3 linked regions of the Homo sapiens genome follow. The protein of the gene in region 1 purifies or fractionates together with the protein of each later gene. This does not show direct contact. Each region holds a gene or a part of one and is shown in the gene's direction. Other genes may lie near its edges.

The links.
Region 2: the proteins of MRGBP (region 1) and EPC1 purify together in Homo sapiens (affinity purification with mass spectrometry; 7 studies listed by BioGRID and IntAct, with this or other methods). This does not show direct contact.
Region 3: the proteins of MRGBP (region 1) and ING3 purify together in Homo sapiens (co-immunoprecipitation; 5 studies listed by BioGRID and IntAct, with this or other methods). This does not show direct contact.

The regions. Positions count from the first base shown.
Region 1 is NC_000020.11:62,791,907-62,799,483, forward strand, and holds the start of MRGBP (MRG/MORF4L-binding protein), read left to right. Parts: upstream 1-4,566; 5' UTR 4,567-4,617; coding exon 4,618-4,765; intron 4,766-5,203; coding exon 5,204-5,325; intron 5,326-6,680; coding exon 6,681-6,762; intron 6,763-6,946; exon of another isoform or gene 6,947-7,068; coding exon 7,069-7,143; intron 7,144-7,549; coding exon 7,550-7,577.
Region 2 is NC_000010.11:32,267,238-32,274,169, reverse strand, and holds the end of EPC1 (enhancer of polycomb homolog 1), read left to right. Parts: intron 1-131; exon of another isoform or gene 132-248; intron 249-888; coding exon 889-1,007; intron 1,008-1,055; exon of another isoform or gene 1,056-1,087; coding exon of another isoform or gene 1,088-1,156; intron 1,157-2,002; coding exon 2,003-2,144; intron 2,145-2,252; coding exon 2,253-2,616; intron 2,617-5,034; coding exon 5,035-5,107; 3' UTR 5,108-6,419; downstream 6,420-6,932. UniProt on the Homo sapiens protein: Component of the NuA4 histone acetyltransferase (HAT) complex, a multiprotein complex involved in transcriptional activation of select genes principally by acetylation of nucleosomal histones H4 and H2A.
Region 3 is NC_000007.14:120,967,766-120,974,789, forward strand, and holds part of ING3 (inhibitor of growth protein 3), read left to right. Parts: intron 1-168; coding exon 169-326; intron 327-1,245; coding exon 1,246-1,439; intron 1,440-2,922; coding exon 2,923-3,115; intron 3,116-3,435; exon of another isoform or gene 3,436-3,580; intron 3,581-5,439; coding exon 5,440-5,478; intron 5,479-6,962; coding exon 6,963-7,024. UniProt on the Homo sapiens protein: Component of the NuA4 histone acetyltransferase (HAT) complex which is involved in transcriptional activation of select genes principally by acetylation of nucleosomal histones H4 and H2A.

The DNA.
Region 1 (7,577 bases):
GTGTTGGAAAAGCGGCTCTATGGAAGACATAGCATCCAGGGCAGGAAGAGGCAGGCTCGGTGGTGTTGGGTTGGAAAGCCCCCGCCTCGTCCGGCGGCCATGCAGTCCCCAGCACCTCTGAGTCCACTCAGCCCAGGGAAGAGGACAACAGAGCTGTGCTCAGTGTCCAGCTGTCTGGATGAGGCCCAGGGAGATGGCCTGTGGTGGAGCAGGAGGACCTGGGGAAACAAAACCCACAGTGGCTGCCCAGCTGCAAAGGCTGCGTTCTTTCTACAGTGTCTGGGGTCTCAGGTATGAGTGGCAGAGGGAGCAGTCCCATCAGCCATGTCAGCCTCGTTGCAATGGAATTCCACTTCTGTCCCAGACACTCAGCCAGACAGGAGGAAACTGTGACCACAGGCATGTGGACACGCAAGGGTATGTTTGAGCAAAGCCTTCTAAACATCCCTTCCATTGCACCCGACTCTCATGACCAAGAACCAGGTGTCCCCATGGGGCTGGGAGATGGGCACCCTCTGGTTAGCAGTGGTCACCCCCTTCCAGAGATGACATCAGCTCCCCAGGCAAGAAACTCCACTTAGAACCCAGAGCCGATCTGAGGAATGATTCATGCAGCTAGACTTATACAAGACTGATCTATAAGCTGGAAGGCTTGTATGTTCACTGACCATGGGAAAGCCTTTCCAGGGCCTGAGCGTTTCCCACTTGGGATCCAAGTCCTCTGTTCCTGGGATCAAGATATTTGGGAAGCCACATCCATCTTTTGAAGGAAATTTGAGCAACAGGGATCAAAGAGTGAGGATCATTCATTCCATCCCCGTAAGGGAGGGAATGGGTCAGTAGGTTGTGTAGCCAGTCCACAAATGGTCACTGTCCACCTGCTGTGTGTTGGCCTTGCCTGAGAGGTGGGGGACAGTGGTGCCACGCCATTCCCAGCCCTGGCCCCCTGGAGCCAGCTGATAGCCTGGCAGGGGAGGCACACGTTGAACAAATTATCATCCGTGATTCACAATGACAAGTGTGCAAAGTGTATCCCACAAAGCACTTATTGAGTGAGAAACACAGGTGTGTGGCCACAGAGACCAAATGGGACCCTCACAGCTGGGGCGGTGACCTTGGAGCTGAGAGTGAAGGCTGCGCAGGAGAGAGACAGGCAAAGGGGTGGGGGCAGGCATTTGCACCCCAGGGGGCTGCAGGGTGATTTGCAAGGGGAGCCCAGGTGAGGGTCCACAGGGACTAGAGCAGGCCAAGAAGGGAGGTTGGTCAGGGGTCGGCTGGAGCCAGGCTTCTGAGGGTTGATTCCCGGCTCTGCCCTCAACCCAGGCAGTTCCCCACTCTACTCATCTCTGACTCCTCCCCTCAAAGCAGGCGTGACAGCGGCACCTGCCTCAGAAAGGAGGGGGCGTGTGGGGAAAGCAGGTATTTCATGACGACCGCCCAGCATAGAGCCCTGGAGACAGTACCCCTGCCCAGGTTCCCACTGGAGCAGGCAGACAGCCCCGGCTGGGATGAGCCAAGCGTGTGTCTCCATGTGGACCCGGCCCAATGTGGGGCTCAGCACCCTCGGGTCTCCTGGTCCGGGCTCCTGTCTCACGCTTTTATGCCATCTTTTCTCAATAGGCACAGGGGACCCCCAAGGGAGGAGGCGCTCCAGACTGAAGGAGGAGAGTACCTGGCAGGGACGGGTGGAGAGGCGCAGGGACCCCAAGGTGTCCAGGGAACAGTAAGGAGATGAGTAACGGTGAGGGTCCCGTCTCCCGAGCGTATCTGTGCTAAGGGGCTGTGGGCTGGGCTTCATTCCTCTTTAGAGCAAGGCTGAGGCCAGGGCCACCTAGGGGCCAGGGTAGAAGACGTACCACGTGACAGCAGTGGCCTAGACCCCTCACGAAGTCTCACTGGGCCATATCTCCACCAGGGCATGGCAGGGACCGGTATCACCAGCGGCCCCCTGCACAGATGGGGAAGCTGAGGCCCAGGTCCCAGTCAGCCAAGCCAGCTCTTGGACCACTCAGCGGTCCCAGCAGGTGAGGCTGACCAGAGCCTGCCTGGGCTAAGAGGCTGCGTTCACCAGTGCCAGCTGTGGTTGGTCACCAGGATGCCTGAGCGCGCTGGCACAGGCCCAGGGCACCCTGCAGAGCAACCAACCCTCACCGAGATCCCCAGGGAAGGGGCTGTTGTTGGCCCATTGTACGGAGGAGGGCACTGAACCCTCAAGAGGCTCAGGGCCTCGCCCGGTCACACAGCTGGAAGGCGCCAGAGCCAGGAAAGGGACCCGGAAGCCCGACCCGGAGCCTACACCCGCAGAGGCGAAAACATCTGCGTAGCGGCTCCCTGGCCAGTGGGCCGTGGTGGGCGTGGCCGAGAGGGAATGGGGCGGAGAGAAGCCCGTGAGGGCAGGGCGGAGGCGGAGGCGGAGGCAGAGGCGGAGCGGGCGGAGCCGGAGGCCGCGGCGGCCTTGATTGGAGGCCGCCTTAAGCTCGTCATGGATGCGTTTTGACCTGGCGGCCCCGCCCCTGACCCGCCCCCGAGCCGCCCTCCCGAGCGCTTCCCCGCCCGGCCCCAGCCTAGGCCCCGCCCTGATCTCGCCCCCTCTTCACCGTCCGGCCCCGGCCCCGCCCCGCGGTGGGGCCTCCGCAGCGACCCGCGGTTAACGCTTCCCCAGAGCTTGGGCTGCGCGGCGGCCGGGAGTCGGAGGCAGGCGGTCAAGGCCGGCAGGGCCGGACCCCCTACTTGCCCTTTCTCCCAGCAGGCGCTGGACTCTGGGGGCGGGCGTGAGCCCCTCCGTCCCGCACCCAGACCCGGGCAGCGAGCCCTATGCCTGCAGTAATTGTGGGGTTTCTGGTTTTGTTTTTTCCTTAACATCTTTATTGAGACCGTTAAGTTCACCCGCTTAAAGCGCACGATTCGGTGGGGTTTTGTTGCGAGCAACCGTGGCCACTATCTAATTCCAGAGCATTTCACCTCCTTAAAATGAAGCTGGGCCCGGCCGGGCGCGGTGGCTCAAGCCTGTAATCCCAGCACTTTGAGAGGCCGAGGAGGAAGGATCACCTGAGGTCAAGAGTTCGAGACCAGCCTGGCCAACATAGTGAAACCGCGTCTCTACTAAAAATACAAAAATTAGCCGGCCGTGGTGAGCGCCTGTAGTCCCAGCTACCCGGGAGTCTGAGGCAGTAGAATCGCTTGAACCCAAGAGGCAGAGGTTGCAGTGAGGCGAGATCGTGCCATTGCACCCCAGCCCGGGCAACAGAGCGAGACTCTGCCTCAAAAACAAACAAAAAAGAAGCCGGTCCCCATCCGCAGTGACTCGCGTTTCCCTCCCCCTCCCCCGTCCCCGGCAACCGTGCATCTACTTTCTATTCCTATGGAGTTGCCAGTTCTGGCTCTTCCTGTGAATGGATTCCCATGCTGTGTATTTTCGTGTCTGAATTCTCTGACTTTCGTCTCAGCCCGCACCCACGCTGCCGCAGTCCGCGCTCGCTGCTTTTAGGCTGAACGCGGCTGCGCCGTGCGGGTGCCCGCGCTCCGGGCGCCCCTCGCAGGTTCAGCCCCGGGTTGGGGGCGGCGCTTGCCTCGCGGCTGCGGGTCCCAGCCTGAACCTGTGTCTTGTTCCACTGCCGCGGGCGCCCGCCACGGAGCTGCTGCTTCCTAGGGAGACGGTTCCATCGTTGAAGGAACGGCCAGACTGTCTTTCGCAGCAGCGGCCCATCTGACCGCACAGCACGACCGCACGAGGGTCCCGAGCCCTGACCCTCGCAGCACTCGTCACCCCGGCCGCGTGGTTGTGGCGGTCTCGGCGGGGCAGGGGGTCCCCACGCGGGCTGATTCTAGTTTCGCGTGACCGATGGTGCTCATTAGCCATATCTGTACATCTTTTTTTTTTTTTCGAGTCGGAGTTTCGCTCTTGTTGCCCAGGCTGGATTGCAATGGCGCGATCTCGGCTCACTGCCTCCCGGGTTCAAGCGATTCTCCTGCCTCAGCCTCCCGAGTAACTGGGATTACAGGCGCCCGCCACTACGCCCGGCTACTTTTTTTGTATTTTTAGTAGAGACGGGGTTATACGATGTTGGCCAGGCTTGTCTCGAACTCCTGACCTCAGGTGATCCGCCCGCCTCGGCCCCCCAAAGTGCTGGGATTACAGGCGTGAGCCACCGCGCCCGGCCCATCTGTACATCTTCTTTGGAAAAATGTGTATCCAAATCCTTAGCCGTTTTATAGTTAGATTGTCTTTTTATTATCGAGTTATAAGAATTATTTATACCTTCTACAAGGAAGTTCATTATCAGATATAGGATTTGCAAATATTTTCTCTCATCTGTGGGTCGTCTTTTCACTTTTCTGATGGTTTCCTTTGAAGCACAGACTTTTTTGTTTGGGTGCAGTGTATTTCTTACTGTGCTTTAAAGAGGAACACGTTTTAAGAACCCCCGCGCGGGGCGGAGCAGGGCGGAGTCCCCGGCGGGAAGGGACCCGAGACCTCGGCTGCGCCTGCGCCGACGCCGGCGCGTGAGCCCGAGCGCGTACCCGGCGGAGCGCGCGCCCGCCCCCGAGTGCGCCTGCGCGGAGCTCGTGGCCGCGCCTGCTCCCGCCGGGGGCTCCTTGCTCGGCCGGGCCGCGGCCATGGGAGAGGCCGAGGTGGGCGGCGGGGGCGCCGCAGGCGACAAGGGCCCGGGGGAGGCGGCCACCAGCCCGGCGGAGGAGACAGTGGTGTGGAGCCCCGAGGTGGAGGTGTGCCTCTTCCACGCCATGCTGGGCCACAAGCCCGTCGGTGAGCGCCCAGGCTGCGGACGCGCGTGGGGGCGGGGCGGGCAACCGGCGGGGCGGGGCGGGGCCTGCGCTCGCGACACCCTCGCCCCCACGCTCCCCGCCGAGCCCGGGCCGTGACACCGCCGCCACACCCGTCCCGGGACCCCCGCCCCCTCCCACGCGCCCTTCGGACCCCGCCCCGGACCCCGCCCACGACCCCTACCCCCGTGAGACCGCGAGGTCCCAGCCCGCAGTGCCCCACCCCCACCCCCGCCCCGGGACAGCCCACCCCCTCCCACACACACCACCCAGCCCTGCCCCCCCACAGCCCCTCCACACCCTGGCCCTCCCCATCTCTCCGCAGCCACCCTTGCCCCTCCAGTCCCCAGGGCAGCCCGTCCCCTCCATCCCCTTTCTCCTCACCGCTCACCGGTTATCCCGCCGCCCCTCCTCCCCTCAGGTGTGAACCGACACTTCCACATGATTTGTATTCGGGACAAGTTCAGCCAGAACATCGGGCGGCAGGTCCCATCCAAGGTCATCTGGGACCATCTGAGCACCATGTACGACATGCAGGCGCTGGTGAGCCCAACCGCCCTCCCTGTGCCGCCCGATGGGGGCACGAACCCGCACACCGCTCTCTGAGAGTCAGCCTGAGCTGGGCAGAGGCCCCTCCATGTCTGCTGGGGTCTGCTGGGCAGAGTAGAGGCCCCTCCATGCCTGCTGGGGTCTGCAGTGAGCTCTCAGGGTCAGCCTGAGCTGGGCAGAGGCCCCTCCGTGCCTGCTGGGGTCCCCTGGGCAGAGACCCCTGCAGTGAGGCTCGTCCTTAAGGAGGACATCCCGGGGCTCCAGAGCCTGTCATGGAAAGCACAAACACAGTGCTAGCAGCTGGCTAGCTTTTCAGGGGCTCTGCTTTAGACTGGGTGCTGGGCCAGAGTCTCCAGCTGAGACCCTGGGGAGGGAGGGAAGGATGCAGAGTCCCGGGCCCTTAGGCCATTGTCAGCCTCCTGGGAGGCCCCCGAAGTGCTTTAGGCAGAGGGTGACCCTATCTGAGTCACACCAAGGTGAATTTGGTGACTTCTGTGGGAGTCAGACAAGTAGAGTTCCAGTCCTCGCAGAGCTTGGAGCTGGCACTGTGTGACGGGCGAGCGGGTTAACTAGGTAAGCAGGGTGGCCAGAAGAGACAGGTGGGTGTTCCAGGCCCTGTGGCAGCAGGAGGTGGTGGGTCCAGGAGCTCAAAGAAGGTGGTGTACTTGGAGAGTGGGGTGGGGGTCAGGGGTCAGGTGACCAGGAGGAGTGGGGACCTGTGCTGGTGGAGAGTCTGTGCCAGCCACGTTGGACTCAGGGCCACACCGGCCATCAGTATGACATAGGTCTCTCCCTCTGGTCTGTGCGACCTCAGGAGGGCAGTGCCTGGCAAGCACTCTCTTCTTCTTTGCCTGGTTCTGTGCCTGTGGCGCTCCCAACCGACACCCTCGGTGTCCATGGGCTCCTGCCACGTGGATGAGAACTCGAGGTGCCTGCGGCCTTTCCCCAGGGCTGTCACTGTGCCCTCTGCATGCCGCCTTGGGGAACGCAGTCTCATGGTGAGACTGCAGGCCGTGCTGGGCAGGCGGAGCCCACAGGTGTGTGTCACCAGGGCTGCCCGGTCCTCAGGGCCCGCCTTAGTGATGCTGGCCCCGGTGGGTCTTCCTGACTCCTGCATCTGCTGCCGCTGGTTCTGCCCTCCCTGGGTCTGTCTGGAAAGCCCAGCTGTGGCAGGCGCTGTTCACAAAAAGAAGAAATGCCCTTTGCCCTTGCCCCGCCCGCCGCAGCCTCCAACACAGTGATGTGTGCTCATTGGCCTCTCCCCAAGTGGCTCTTACACGGCTCTAGTGACTTCTTGAAACTGCATCTTCACCCTTGTTTCTTAAACAAAACTCTCTATTTGATATCAGCATGAGTCTGAGATTCTTCCATTCCCGAATCCAGAGAGGAACTTCGTCCTTCCAGAAGAGATCATTCAGGAGGTCCGAGAAGGTGAGGCTCGGGAAAGGTTGGGCTTGGGATTCAGAAAAGGCCAGACCCTGGCCAAGGGCAGGGAGGTGAGGGTGAGGACCCCGGGCCTCCAGGGAGGTGTGAGGGTCCAGCGCAGACCCCGCCCTACCTGTGCTTGGGTGGTCTTGGAACCTCCGGGATTGGAGAGGACTTTGTTTGAGAGCAGTGGCTGGACGGAAGCTGAGGCCTGTGTGGGCAGCAAGCGTCGGAGCAGTCCCTGGCCTGACCATCCCCCAGCGTCGGCCACCACCGTGGGTTTTCGGTGAGCGTCAGCTGTCTCCTCCACAGGAAAAGTGATGATAGAAGAGGAGATGAAAGAGGAGATGAAGGAAGACGTGGACCCCCACAATGGGGCTGACGATGGTGAGTGTGGAGCTCACCCTGCCCTGATGCCCTTTGGGGCTCAGCACCCCAAGACTGCCTTCAGGCAGGGCACAGTCAGGTGGGCGTAGAGCCTGCGGTGCAGAGGCCCCAGGCAGGTCATCTAGGCACAGGATGGATCCTGCAGTGCCCCCTCCCCAGGAGCTGAGTGCCTGCTCCATGTTGTAGGCCAGGGTCTGAGCGGCGGTCCCTGCAGTGCCCGCCGCAGGCAGGTCCTCAGGAGGACCAGGCCCCTCTGTGGGCCCAAATGCAAGGGGCTCCCAGCTCAGGAGGAAGCTTTGGGTTCAGAGGGTCACGTGTCAGTATGCAGATTTTTTTAACTGAACAGGAAGACAAAAATAAGATTCTGGATATTCTGTTTTCAGCCAAGTGATTTTTCGTTTCTCAGTTTTTTCATCTTCAGGGAGTTTGGGGAA
Region 2 (6,932 bases), on another chromosome or scaffold:
GAGGTATTGTGATTGTATGTGCTTTTTTTTTTTTTAATTGGCAAAAAAGAGAAAAAGGTTTCCTTTTTAAAAACTGCACACACTTTTTTGGGGGGGTAATAAATGAACATTTTTTTGTTTGTTTTTTTTAGAACTGAGCTCTCCATAGACAAACATAAGTAGCATAACACAGTGTCTTTCCTCAGACATCATTCTGTACAGTAAATCAACATAAACAACTCCGTTCTTATTGACTGGATTTTTTCCAGGTGGGTTAATTGGGTGGGGAAAATTAATTAACCTTAACATTAGAGCCTCTTTTCTTCCTGTTAAACTTAAAGGATGAGTTCTTTAAAAAAAAGCAATAAACCAACCAACAACTGTAATCTTTCATATAGAGCAAATTTTTTTAATGACTACAATTAGAAAATATGTAGAACTATTAGTATATATACACAGAGCCATTAGGGATCATCTGAATGCCTTGGGAAGATATGGATTAAATAGAAACCAAATGTAATTATCAGATATTCTCTCAAGCTCAGTGCAAAGCTGAATTCCAAATCTATGGATTTTAAAAGCTGATATTATCTTTCTACACTGTGTAGAACAAGTGTCACAGCTTAAAAAAAAAATAGTGGTGTTGAAATTTGGGAAGTGAGCAGTTCTCTTTCCTGTGTTTAATTCAGGAAGTTTAATTTTTTTTTTCTTTAAATTCATGCCACTCTTGTTAAATGTGGTAGCAGAAACGCAGAAATTTTCATTTGGAAGTGATCTTTAGCAGGATCATGATCCTTTGTCAGATGCTTCAATTTTGCACAGATTTAATGCAGAATTTTTGTTTTAGTACTGTAAGACATACATGACAGCTGGGCATTTTTATAAAGTGTTTCTTTATTTTATGTTCAGCATTTACAGCCGAACAATACCAGCAACATCAACAGCAACTGGCACTCATGCAGAAACAGCAGCTTGCACAAATTCAGCAACAGCAAGCAAATAGTAATTCCTCCACCAACACATCACAGGTGAGGGATTTGTCTGTCTTATGATTATCCCTCATTGTTTCCCACCAGAGTTCATCTCTAATTACCAACTGTTGTCATAGAACCTTGCATCTAACCAGCAGAAAAGTGGCTTTCGCCTGAATATACAGGGTTTAGAAAGAACACTACAGGTGAGTATGGAAGCTGTTGCCTCTGCTCCCTATTTTAAAAAGTAAAACTAAAGCACTTAGTTAAATGAGATGAAGATACTGTCTTCCCGTCTGACCTGTAGTCCATTAATGTACCTCTTGAATATATAACCCCACCCAGTTCATTCTCTTGGGCATGTTAATTATTATTAAGGCTTTTAACATTATGCAAAAATAACCTCTCCAACTGTTGAAAGAGATAACTTTTAAACCTAAAGCATGATAAACGTTTGCCAGTTAAACACATGTAGGGCATAAAGGCTGAGGTTTGAGTCCCTGCATCTTGCAGGAAAAATATATTTTTAAAAAGTTGAGGGGCCTATCAATTTCTAGGTTAAATTATGTGATATTTTGTTACTTCCATTTCTAAAGGGATAGTTATCTTATCCCAAAGGTGCCTTTCATTGTGTGTGTATACATATGTGTGTGTGTATAAGTTAGGTGAAGGAAGTTTACATATTCATTTATTCATTATATGGATTTGCAAATCACTGAAATGTTTACTAGCATATTTCTTGTCCAACATTTTGTGTTGGAGGTTTGCTGTTTCCACATTATAGAAGGCTTATTTTGGTAATTGACTTATACATATTATATATTGTCACATATGAAGCAAAATTTATAACTTAGATTACTTTTCACTTATCAAATATATGACTATCAAAAGAGATATAATTACTGTTGCATCTCAAGGTACCAAAATAGAAAGATTTCAGTGGTTTGCCATTTTTACTTATATTCAAACTGATTTTGGTATGCATGTGTAGTTTTGATATTGATTTGATACTAAGTGATACTGATTAGATTTCTTTTGTATTTTCTTTTTAGGGTTTTGTTTCTAAGACTTTGGATTCTGCTAGTGCACAGTTTGCTGCTTCTGCTTTGGTGACATCAGAACAACTGATGGGATTCAAGATGAAGGATGATGTGGTGCTTGGAATCGGGGTGAATGGCGTCCTTCCAGCCTCAGGTAAGAATAAAGACATTTAAATTGTTTGGGTTATATTTATAACATATATCTATAATATAAACAGCAAAGTTGTACATTGTTTAGATGTTTCTTTCTTTTTCTCTCTAGGAGTATACAAGGGCTTACACCTCAGTAGTACTACACCAACAGCACTTGTACATACAAGTCCATCAACGGCAGGTTCAGCTTTGTTACAGCCTTCAAATATTACACAGACTTCAAGTTCCCACAGTGCACTGAGTCATCAAGTAACTGCTGCCAATTCTGCAACAACTCAGGTTCTGATTGGGAACAACATTCGATTAACTGTACCTTCATCAGTTGCCACTGTAAACTCTATTGCCCCAATAAATGCACGACATATACCTAGGACTTTAAGTGCTGTTCCATCATCTGCCTTAAAGCTGGCCGCTGCAGCAAACTGTCAAGTTTCCAAGGTCCCATCTTCATCCTCTGTAGATTCAGTTCCAAGGTGAGTAGTTATTTTTGCCTAACATACCTGGAATAAGAGATCTAACTTCAGTCCTCCAGCATCGTTCTTTACCTATTTCTTTGTGTTTCTTGTTCTTTTCCTTTTATACATTGAAAATGTATAGTTGAGAATTGATCACTTATTTATTCAAGAACTAAACAGTTCTTGAACACTTAATTCAATATTAAGAATTTGAACTAACTGGTATAGTGAATGTTGCATATATGATTTGGAACATCCCTTTCTTACTATAACAATAGTTATACCAGGTGCAGTGGCTCACGCCTGTAATCCTAGCACTTTGGGAGGCAGAGGCAGGCAGATCACCTAAGGTCAGGAGTTCGAGAACAGCCGATCCAACATGGTGAAAGGCCACCTCTACTAAAAATACAAAATCACCCGGGCATGGTGGCGCATGCCTGTAATCTCAGCTACTCAGGAGGCTGAGGCAGGAGAATCGCTTGAACCTGGGAGGTGGAGGTTGCAACCAAGATCGCACCATTGCACTCTGGCCAGGGCAACAAGAGCTAAACTCTGTCTCAAAAAAAAAAAAAAGCGTATAATGCTCTCAGTTTTCTTCCGTCTTTGGATGGAAGGAGTTCTCCTGAGAGCGTTTCTTTTATGACTTTTTTTCCACAGCTTCTCATGTAAACAGGTAGAATTGATAGAAACCCCTGCCCCATCACTGGTATGCTAAGCTATTCTTTTTTTTTTTTTTTTTTTTTTTTTTTTGAGACCGAGTCTCGCTCTGTTGCCCAGGCTGGAGTGCAGTGGCACAATCTCAGCTCACTGCAATCTCTGCCTCCCAGGTTCAAGTGATTCTGTCTCAGCCTTCTGAGTAGATGGGATTACAGGCATACACCGCGATGCCTGGCTAATTTTTGCATTTTTAGCAGGGACGGGGTTTCACCATGTTGGCCATGCTAGTCTTGAACCCCTGACCTCAGGTGGTCAGCCTGCCTTGGCCTCCCAAAGTGCTGGAATTACAGGCATGAGCCACCACGCCCGGCGTTAAGCTATTCTTATTAATGTAAAGACTTACAGTATTCATGCCAGGTCAACTCTAAATTGAACCATTATTTTTTGTGCTAACTTGCCGTCTTGGATTTCAGTAGACAGTTGAGAATTTTGCTTATGCTCTATTATGTTGTAGAATTAAGGGTAGTTAAAATCCTGCTGTCTACAAGGTACTGTGGGAGAAACAAAAGAAAAAGACAGGTGTTTTCAGTTTAGTTAGCAGACAAGCATAAAAGAGTGAGAAGTCCAATAATGCTAATTGTAGATATCACAAAGCATTATATACTTGTTAAATTAATTGTATAGATGATGGCTGTAATTCAGTATAAGGAGAAATCTTTTTTTGCACAGGGAATTCTGGGACTCTTCTAACAAAATAAGATCAGATCCAATCTGTGTTAGTCTTCGGGCAAAGAGGAGAAAGAAAAAGCATTTCTGGCAGGTGGAGTGAAATACAAATTTGAGGCTGAGTGAAAATACAAAGTTGAGGAAATACAAGTGTTTAGAAGTTAACAAGTAAACTGGTTTTTGTATAGGCTCAGGAAGGTTAGTAGTTTAAATTGGAATGGCAGGAGAAGCCATTCCAGATTCCTGGAGCACTTTAAATGCCAGACTGGTAGACTGTCTCAGCCAGGAGTGGCCCAGAAGAAAGCAGGGTTTGTAGCAATGAACTGTGGCCTGTAGTTTCCAAACCATGCATCTGCATCTGCTTCTGAATTTAAGTAACAGTCATTGTCTGCTTAATGCCAATCCATTCTTAATAGTATTCTGGGTCTAATTATATAGCTCATCTGTCAGCTATAGTTCTGACTCATATCATGATTTTACTGCTCTAGAATTGTTTAACCATGGAATATTTGCCATGTATAGAATTTTCATATCACATGTCCTTTTGTTTTTAAAGATGAAGAAACTGAGACGCAGAGAAGTTAATGTATTTCTCTAAGGACACTCAAAAGTCTAGACTGTAGAACCACTAGGGCCCTCGAGCTCTGTGGCTGTGCCACTCAGCTCCATGTATTAGACTGATTTAAAGCCTGACACAAATCTCAGTTATGTTTGTTTCCTTTTTAAAAACTCTTTTGAAAGGTTTAATAGAGAAGGAACTTGAAACAACAATTACTAAAACATGGGAATTCTTTGTTTTTAACATCTAGGTTGCTTGAGTACTACTATAATTTTGATGGTAATGTAGTTGACTGTGGAATTTATTTATAGTCAACATTAGCCTGATTTCTGATAATAAACTATAAAGATTCGTATTCCTCTACTTGCTAGCTTGTTCCCAAAGAGTCCAATTTCTTCCTGTTAATAAAAATAAACTTTTTGTTGGGAAGATAATGTTCATTTGCTGAATATTTATGTTGTAGATAAGTAATTGATTGAACTTTATTTCAACAGGGAAAATCATGAATCAGAAAAGCCAGCACTGAACAACATAGCAGACAACACAGTAGCGATGGAGGTGACGTAGCTTCCTCCGAGTGGAACTGCAGCCTGGGGACTTGATTAGGTGCTATGCATCAGTAGCATTTTGAATGCAAGGGATGATGGAAAGCAGCACATGCGTTTCTGTGGCAGCTGTGGGGACTTGACAGCAATGCTCATCTCTCATGCTTCAATTTTTCTTTTCTTACTGTTAATAGGAAAAAAATCAACATCTGTAAATTAAGAATACAGCAATTATCTGTACAGTACTGCATATTTGTAATACCCTTGTATATATGTTACTTGAATACAGAAATGTTCATTTGTGATGCTTTGCACTTGGGGGTGGGGGGTGGGAGGGAAATCAATTGCAACAAAGAGTGTGAGATGTGAGATTGTATAGAGATGAAGTGTCATCACATCATGTGCATGGTGCGGAACCTGCTGTTTTATCTATTTATTGTGCCGTGTTTACAGTTTTTTGTACACTGTACCTTCATTGGTTCCTGTGCTGTAGTAAATGTGTTAGGTAGCTGTGGACTCCTTGGTATTTTGTAAATGGTATAACATAACTTGGTTCCCCTCTGGGTCCTTGAGTTTTCTGTGTATCATGTGAAAAAAAATGGTGACATACATACAGAATTTTACAAAAAAAAAAAAAAAAAAAAAGGCATCAGTTTTTTTAAAAATGGGGAATGTACTATTAAATGGGGATCTTCCTGGTCTACTATCATTAGGACAAGTAACAAGCTAAAAATGAAGTCTCTTGAATCTTTCCATCCCCAACTTGCCCACAAAGCTGTGGGTGGTTTCTGGTACTTAAAGCACTAATATTATGTTGCTGCTCTGCGAACAGCCCAGTAGTCCCATTTCCTTCCACACCAAAAAGTGTTAAATCAAGTATGCAAATGGAGTCCTTACAACTGGAGTTTATGTTGTCTTGCCCTTTTTTTAGCACAAAAAAAATTGTACTTTTTTATTGTCGAATTGTTTAAAAGACTTCATTCTTTACTTGTTCTTACGAAAAGGATATAAGGGAGAAGAATGCAGTAATTGCTGTACGTGTATCATCATTCCAGTTTCTAAAAACAGCCAGCCAGCTTTTTTCCTTTTAAGATTCTCCAGAAGGCTGCAAGGCCAGAACCACAAATATCGGGTGCCTTCCTTTGGAAATATTTGACCTCTCTTCTGTGAAGAGAATGGTACTTAACAGACTACTACTAGTGCTTTGTCAGTACCGAAGTCTGAATGCCCAGTCCAATGGCATACATTATCCTTAAGGTTTTTAATCCCACCTGGAAAAATTGTGATAGAATTCTCACAAAATAAACCCAGGGCATTACATGTTGACAAACTAATGTGTAGTGGTCTTTTGCTTTTGTTTTCAACCCAAGAACCTCTGTGTGACTTATATTAGAATCATTCCATAAAGGAGGGGATGGAAATGGGGGGTGATGACTTTAAGTTCATTTTCTTCAACAGTTACTTACTGAATGACTGCAATGCCTGGGACCACTTTAGGTCCTACAACTGTGGGGAAAATAATTCCTGCCCTCATGGAGCTTATACTCTCATAGGGGGAAAATAAATAAATAAATGCATTTAAAATATATTACGACCAGTATTTGGAAGAAAAGTGAAGGAAGGGAACAAACAGTGCCCGGGAAGGCTGGAGGTTGCAGTTTCAAGTAGGGTGGTCAAGGAAGGGCCCACAGGCAGTTATGTTTCATCAGAGACTGGAAGTTAAGGAAAAATATTCCAGGCAGAGAGAAGTACAGAGATCCCGAGGTGGTAGTGTGTCTACTGCACTGGATAACACCGCCAGGGCTGGAGGGAGCTGGGGTAGGGCGTGTCGGCCACAGGGAGCCAGC
Region 3 (7,024 bases), on another chromosome or scaffold:
GGAGAAAGAAGAAAAAGGAAAACCAAATACATTATTCAGTTGACTTAATGTACAAGTGACATTAAAAATTTTAATGATTATATGTCTGTGCTGGGAAATAATGTAATTTAGACTCACTAACATTATGTTCTCTGCAACCATTTTTATTTCTTTTTTACATCTACACAGGTTGTCGAAATAATAATTCCACAGCCTCTTCTAACAATGCCTACAATGTGAATTCCTCCCAACCTCTGGGATCCTATAACATTGGCTCGTTATCTTCAGGAACTGGTGCAGGGGCAATTACCATGGCAGCTGCTCAAGCAGTTCAGGCTACAGCTCAGGTAAAAAGTAAAGGGTTTAGAGACAAAATGTTACATTTTGTCGGAATCATTGGAAACCTAATAGAAATAACGGGATGTGAACAAATAGTTTTCTAACGTTGTATATTTTCATTTTTAAGTCATGATTTCACGATATGTGATATTTTATTTAATGAAATAATACATAGGAATTGCCTGATTGATAATGAAAACTAAAAAATAGGTTTATCATGCGGATTACATGCAGACCCTTCTCACAATAACTGCTCATGTTGCCCATGTTCTTGACTGCAGTCCACAGCACATGCTAGCATAGTTCTTCGTTCTTTCTGCCAGTTCCAAGGCTTCCCCTGTAGCCTTGGACTTAGGTCATCTTGAGTTTGTTCACTTCTGTATAGTTTGCCTATATTCCAAATTAAGAAGCTGCCCATCCCATAGTTTATATTCTAACTGTGTAAAATCTTATTTTAAATCTTTAAATGAAAAAGGTTAGGCCAGGCATGGTGACTCACACCTGTAATCCCAGCTCTTTGATAGGCCGAGGCAGGTGGATCACTTGAGGTCAGGAGTTCAAAACCAGCCTGGTCAACATGGTGAAACTCCATTTCTACTAAAAATACAAAAAAATTAGCTGGGTGCCTGGTGGGTGCCTGTAATCCCAGCTACTCGGTAGGCTATGGCAGGAGAATTGCTTGAACCTGAGAGGTGGAGGTTGCAGCGAGCCAAAATCGTGCCACTAGACTCCAGCCCAAGCGACAGATTGAAACTCCACCTCAAAAAAAAAAAAAAAAAAAAGCTTAAATTCCAGTGATGAAAATAATAGTTTAAACAATATAAATTAACATTTGATAAACCAAAATAAAACTATAATTTGTAAAACTTGAAAAAGAAAATCTACATATTTACATATATTGATGCTATCAATGAATGTCTATTTAAGATGAAGGAGGGACGAAGAACATCAAGTTTAAAAGCCAGTTATGAAGCATTTAAGAATAATGACTTTCAGTTGGGAAAAGAATTTTCAATGGCCAGGGAAACAGTTGGCTATTCATCATCTTCGGCACTTATGACAACATTAACACAGAATGCCAGTTCATCAGCAGCCGACTCACGGAGTGGTCGAAAGAGCAAGTAAGTTTTATTGTTACAGTAGCCCTATACCTTTACTGAACACTTGGTCTACTTGACACTTCAGCCAGGCCTCTCTATGTTAAAGGCAGGATATAACGGATTAAAATTAACCTTGCAGAGGTAGGGAGACATGCGGTTTTCATTTTATAGTGCCATACTTTGAAGGTGTCAAGTCTTTAAAAAGTGTTAGAGTTGTTTTTAATTTTTCTAGAGTCATAAATTGAGTTTGTTAATACATGACTTCTTTTTATCTTCTTTTATTCATTAAGATAAATCATTTTATGGAACTGCTTTTCATTTATTACCCTTTATTTTGCCATGTGTTTCAAGGTAAATTAATGCAATGCAAATTATATCCTGGTGATTTTTTTTTTTTAAACAAGATTTTTCATTTTGATTAACAGCAAGCAAGGCGTCTTCATTCTTAGTCTTGGGTCCCAAAAACTGATGGTGTAAAAATATCCCTAGATTTTGTATATGAGACTTGGGATGACTGTATAAGCTTTAAATATGAAAACCTAATAGCATTTATCACTGTCTATCCCAGGTAACTGAATATGCTGGGTGTTTATACATAATGAAAGTTCAAATGCTAGGCCAAAATAATTAGTTACCTAGTAGTTATATTTTCTGTATTTTAAAATATGTTATATTTTTTGTGAATTAATCCCTTAAAGAACGATCAATATGAAATAACCACAACAGAAGTGTCAAACATCTTAAAAATTAATTCATCTTAATGGTACAAGTTTAATGTAATTTCTTATGATAAAGTTCTATACTTTTAGAATTTAAATAGCATAGGGCTTAGCAGTAAATTACTTGTGAATTTTTACAGTCTTGGTTCCCTGCCATACTCATGGTAGGTATTCACACATCAGTTGATGGTTATAACCACTTTCATCAAATGTTTTTGTGTGTGTGTGCTTTAGGTTTTGATGAAGAGTATTCAGTTTACTTAAAAATACGAATAATGAGTGGCTGGGCGGGGTGGCTCATGCCTATAATCCCAGCACTTTGGGAGGCCGAGGTGGGCAGATCACGAGGTCAGGAGATCGAGACCATCCTGGCTAACACGATGAAACCCCATCTCTACTAAAAATACAAAAAATTAGCCAGGCATGGTGGCGGGCGCCTGTAGTCCCAGCTACTCGGGAGGCTGAGGCAGGAGAATGGCGTGAACCTGGGAGGTGGAGCTTGCGGTGTGCAGAGATCGCGCCACTGCACTCCAGTCTGGGCAACAGAGCGAGACTCCATCTCAAAAAAAAAAAAAAAATACAAATAATGTCTGTAAAGTAGCCAGAACTTATGTTAATTCTTCAAAGTACTACCTACAATTTAAGTCATTGGTAAATCCGGATTACTTTAGCTTACACTTTAATTTATACATTTGATGTCATTTCATTTTATACTATTTATTTAGGAGTTATTCTCAGTTAACTTCTGGATGGTGAGCAAATAAAACTTATACTATTTTTTTCAGAAACAACAACAAGTCTTCAAGCCAGCAGTCATCATCTTCCTCCTCCTCTTCTTCCTTATCATCGTGTTCTTCATCATCAACTGTTGTACAAGAAATCTCTCAACAAACAACTGTAGTGCCAGAATCTGATTCAAATAGTCAGGTTGATTGGACTTACGACCCAAATGAACCTCGATACTGCATTTGTAATCAGGTAAAAGTCTGTTATATCTATAAAAGTATAATCTGAATAAACTAGAAGGAAGAGAACTATTTCATTTTTAAGCACTTTTTTAAACTCACTTAAAATACCTTTGCTTTATTTGTATACTTTTCTCCCCCTTCTTACAAAAGTGACATTTGCTGTAAATACTGAGTATAAAGAAAAATGTTACCCATAATCCTAGCCCTCAGATACAACCTGTAACTAAACATTTTTGGTATACCACTACCATATACCTCATGTGCACATTGGCTGCCTTAATAAAATACAACAGACTGGGTAGCTTAAACAACAGAAAATAATTTTCTCACAGGTATGAAGGCTGGGAAGTCCAAGATCAAGGTGTCCACTGACTCAGTTCTGGAGGAGGGCTCCCTTCCTAGATGGAGACTGCTGCCTTCTCACCGGGTCCTCACATGATAGAGGGAGAAAGAGTGTGCTCTGGTGTCTTTTCTTATAAGGGCACCAGCCTTGTCAGAGTAGGACCCCACTCTATGACCTCATTTAACCTTTACCACCTCCTCACAGGCCCTGTTTCCAATTATAGTCACGTTGGGGGTTAGGGCTTCAACATATGATTTTGAGACATAAGCTTGCATTTCATAACACGTGTCTATGCAGATTTGCACATGCATGTGTGTATAAGTTTGTCAGTAGGAACCACAGTGTATACTTTCTTGTTACTGGCTTTTTTCTCTAAATCAGGTATACCGAACATGATTTTTCTTTAAGATCATATTTTTAATTTTCACATAGTTATCTCTTATGCCATCCAGTGTAGTTTTCTTAACCAATACCTAGCTATAGATTATATTAGTGGTTTTAATTTGTTTGAAATTAGGGATAATATTACGATAGGCATTTTTTAAATGTAATCCATTTTATACATCTAATTTCTTGGATAATCTTTTAGAAATAAAATTAGGCTGTAAATATTTGACAGACACCAAAATATATTTTCTAGAAATTTATTACCAAAAATTAATAAACATACCGGTTTACTAAACCCTGTCCAACACTGGATATTATTTTCTTTTAAAAACTAAGTACCAATTTGGTAGTTTTATATTATGATTGTTTTAAATACACTAGTATTATTGAAGTTGGACATTTTTTGACCATTTTTGTTTTTTACATTATGAATCGACTCCTAATGGTGTCGGCTGATTTTTCTATTGTTTTTGTTATGTACTCTAAATATTTGCTTGATTTAGTTTTTTAAAAATAATTCTAAAATTTTAATTTTATGTAGTTATGACTGTTAATTTTTTTTTATGAAGCAAGCCATGGATTATATACTTAGAAGGGCTTTCTCTTTGGCTCTTCTTTCTACAAAAAATTGTCTTGTATAATATTTTCTCCTAGTTTTTATATGGTTTTGTCTAGTTCTTTGCATGCTTCAGTTTCTTCACATTTAAGACTTAGTCTATCAGCAGATTATTGTGTCTAACAGTATGAGTTGCCAGTCTGATTTTTAAAAATTTTAACAATTTGTTAGCTGTTCCACTATCACCCGATAAACATTTTTCAGTACAAATGATAGAAAAGCATATCCTGTATCCTGACAACAAAAGTAGATTACTTGCAAAAGAACAAAATCAGACTGAACCTAGAGTTTTCCTCTGTAACACTAAAAAACTAGAAGGTGATGGAATATGTCTGTAGAGCTTTCAGGGAAAAATTAAGAGCCCCCAAAAACTTGATATTCAGAGAAGTTATTTCTCTGCATAGGACCATGTAAATATATTTTCACTCATGCAGAGAATCAGAAGATATGCCATCTAGTTAATCCTGTCTGAAAAATTATTCAATCCACTGAGAACTTCAGTGAACTCAAGAATTAGCAAGTTATGCCCTAAAGTGCTGGTGATGAAGAGCAAAAGAAAAATGAGAAAGGACATAAAATAGATAAGTTTAGAAGTTTCAAGGAAGGAGACTATTAATTGCAAAAATATAAATGACCTAATGTGACCCAAGAAGTAAAAACTTTCAGTAAGTAAATAATCAAGAAAGGAACTTAAAATTTTTACAATAAGAACTACCCAGAAAGATGACTCCTTCATCCGGGTGATTTATATGTCAAGTTCTTCCAGACTTCTGAAGGGCAGATAATTCCTGTGCATTTCTTCCCACCCTTGCCCCACCCTGCCCAAAAGAGTATTTCAGGAAAAAATTATTATACCTTGATTCTCAATGTAATTGTATATTCAGTGTATTTCCCTTTATTTTCCAGCAGTATCATACATAAACAGTTAATTGGTATCTAGGTGTTTGTTACATAGTCATAATAAAGACATTTAATTTTTTTTAACTAGGTATCTTATGGTGAGATGGTGGGATGTGATAACCAAGATGTAAGTATTACATTTTTCTATTTAGGAATGAAAAAAATCACAGGTTGTTATTACTTGAATATTTGTCTTATTTGCTGTATGGTTTGGTCTAAGAAAACAGGTTTGCAGGTATATTAGTTATATTATGCTAATGCTAGAATATTCCTCTTCAAAATAGGGTAGTGTCCCTTAATGTGTTCCCTATTTTAATTTTTAAAGCTAATTTTATGGTTTTATGTGCAGATTGTCTCAGAAGTGTTATGTTGTATGAAAATTATAAATACCCTCCTTTCCCTTTACTAAAAAATACTGTGTTTACTAGAATCCAGTTCATTTATCACATTGAAGAAATGGAATTTTAAAACAATTCATTCTTTCAGGCTGCACCGTGCTAAAGTGAAGGGTGGGATAATTGAGGATCTAATGTGAGATTATCTTCCTCTCATGAGTATAATATTTTTTCCTGTACTCTGCAGGTGTCAGCTGATAAGAGCCACCCCTGATCTAAAAAGTAAAGGAAATTTGAAAGGAAGGAATTCTTGGTTTTTAGGAGACTTAATTTTAGTTAGAGATACGTTTTTTATTCAATACTGAGAATATTGTTGTCTAGTAATTTTGACTCCCTCCTTATTTAGTAGTGACAGGATCCTAAGATTAACAAGAGTTTTAAATTTGTAAAACAATCTGAAGATTGAGGGAGCTGGCTAGGTGCATTAAAATGTGTACTTTTCCTAGACCTGATAGGGTTACAGCAACATGCTCACGTAGATTGGGACAGAGCCTCCTTCTGTTTCCCTGTCTAGAATCCCTTGTAGGCTGTTTGTGGTTGTTGCAAAAACAATATTGCCCAACCATTTCAAGAACATCACTGTAAACTCTTCTGGGGCAGTTAGTGAAAATGATGAATGAGATTTCTATGAGTACCAGCATCATGCTTCTCTGATTCTTCTTATTCCCAGTTGTGCTCTTCTGAGTGCTAAGACTTTCATGAAAGAGTTTTCTGCTTAATATGTTTCAAAGAGGAATAATTTTTCTCTACATTTCAAGGAATAGAAACACCCACGTAGGAAATGCAGGGCATAAGACATAAATTAATGTCTTTAATTACAATCAGCTTATTCTACTTTATGAGACAGCAAATAAGGCTGACTATTAAATAAAATCTTAAGTTATATTTACCTTCTACATAGAAGATTCATCCCACTTCTTTTTGCCCTTGAAAGCTGAAAACTAGTGAATTTTCATTCATTAGGATGAGGGGACTAGATTACATGGACCTCAGGATTCTTGAAGATGCATAATTTTTCTGTGCCTTCATTTCCTCATTCCTGAAGCTTATCATTTAGTCTAAATGATGTCTAAATAATCTAGATCTAAAAATTCTGATGTCACACATCTAATTATTGTTAAATTAAATGGATTATTCAGTCTCCTGAGCATATTTTAATATACTCTCTTGTCTTCAGAAGTACTGAAAACTTGTTTTTTGCAATTTTGCTTTCTAGTGCCCTATAGAATGGTTCCATTATGGCTGCGTTGGATTGACAGAGGCACCAAAAGGCAAATG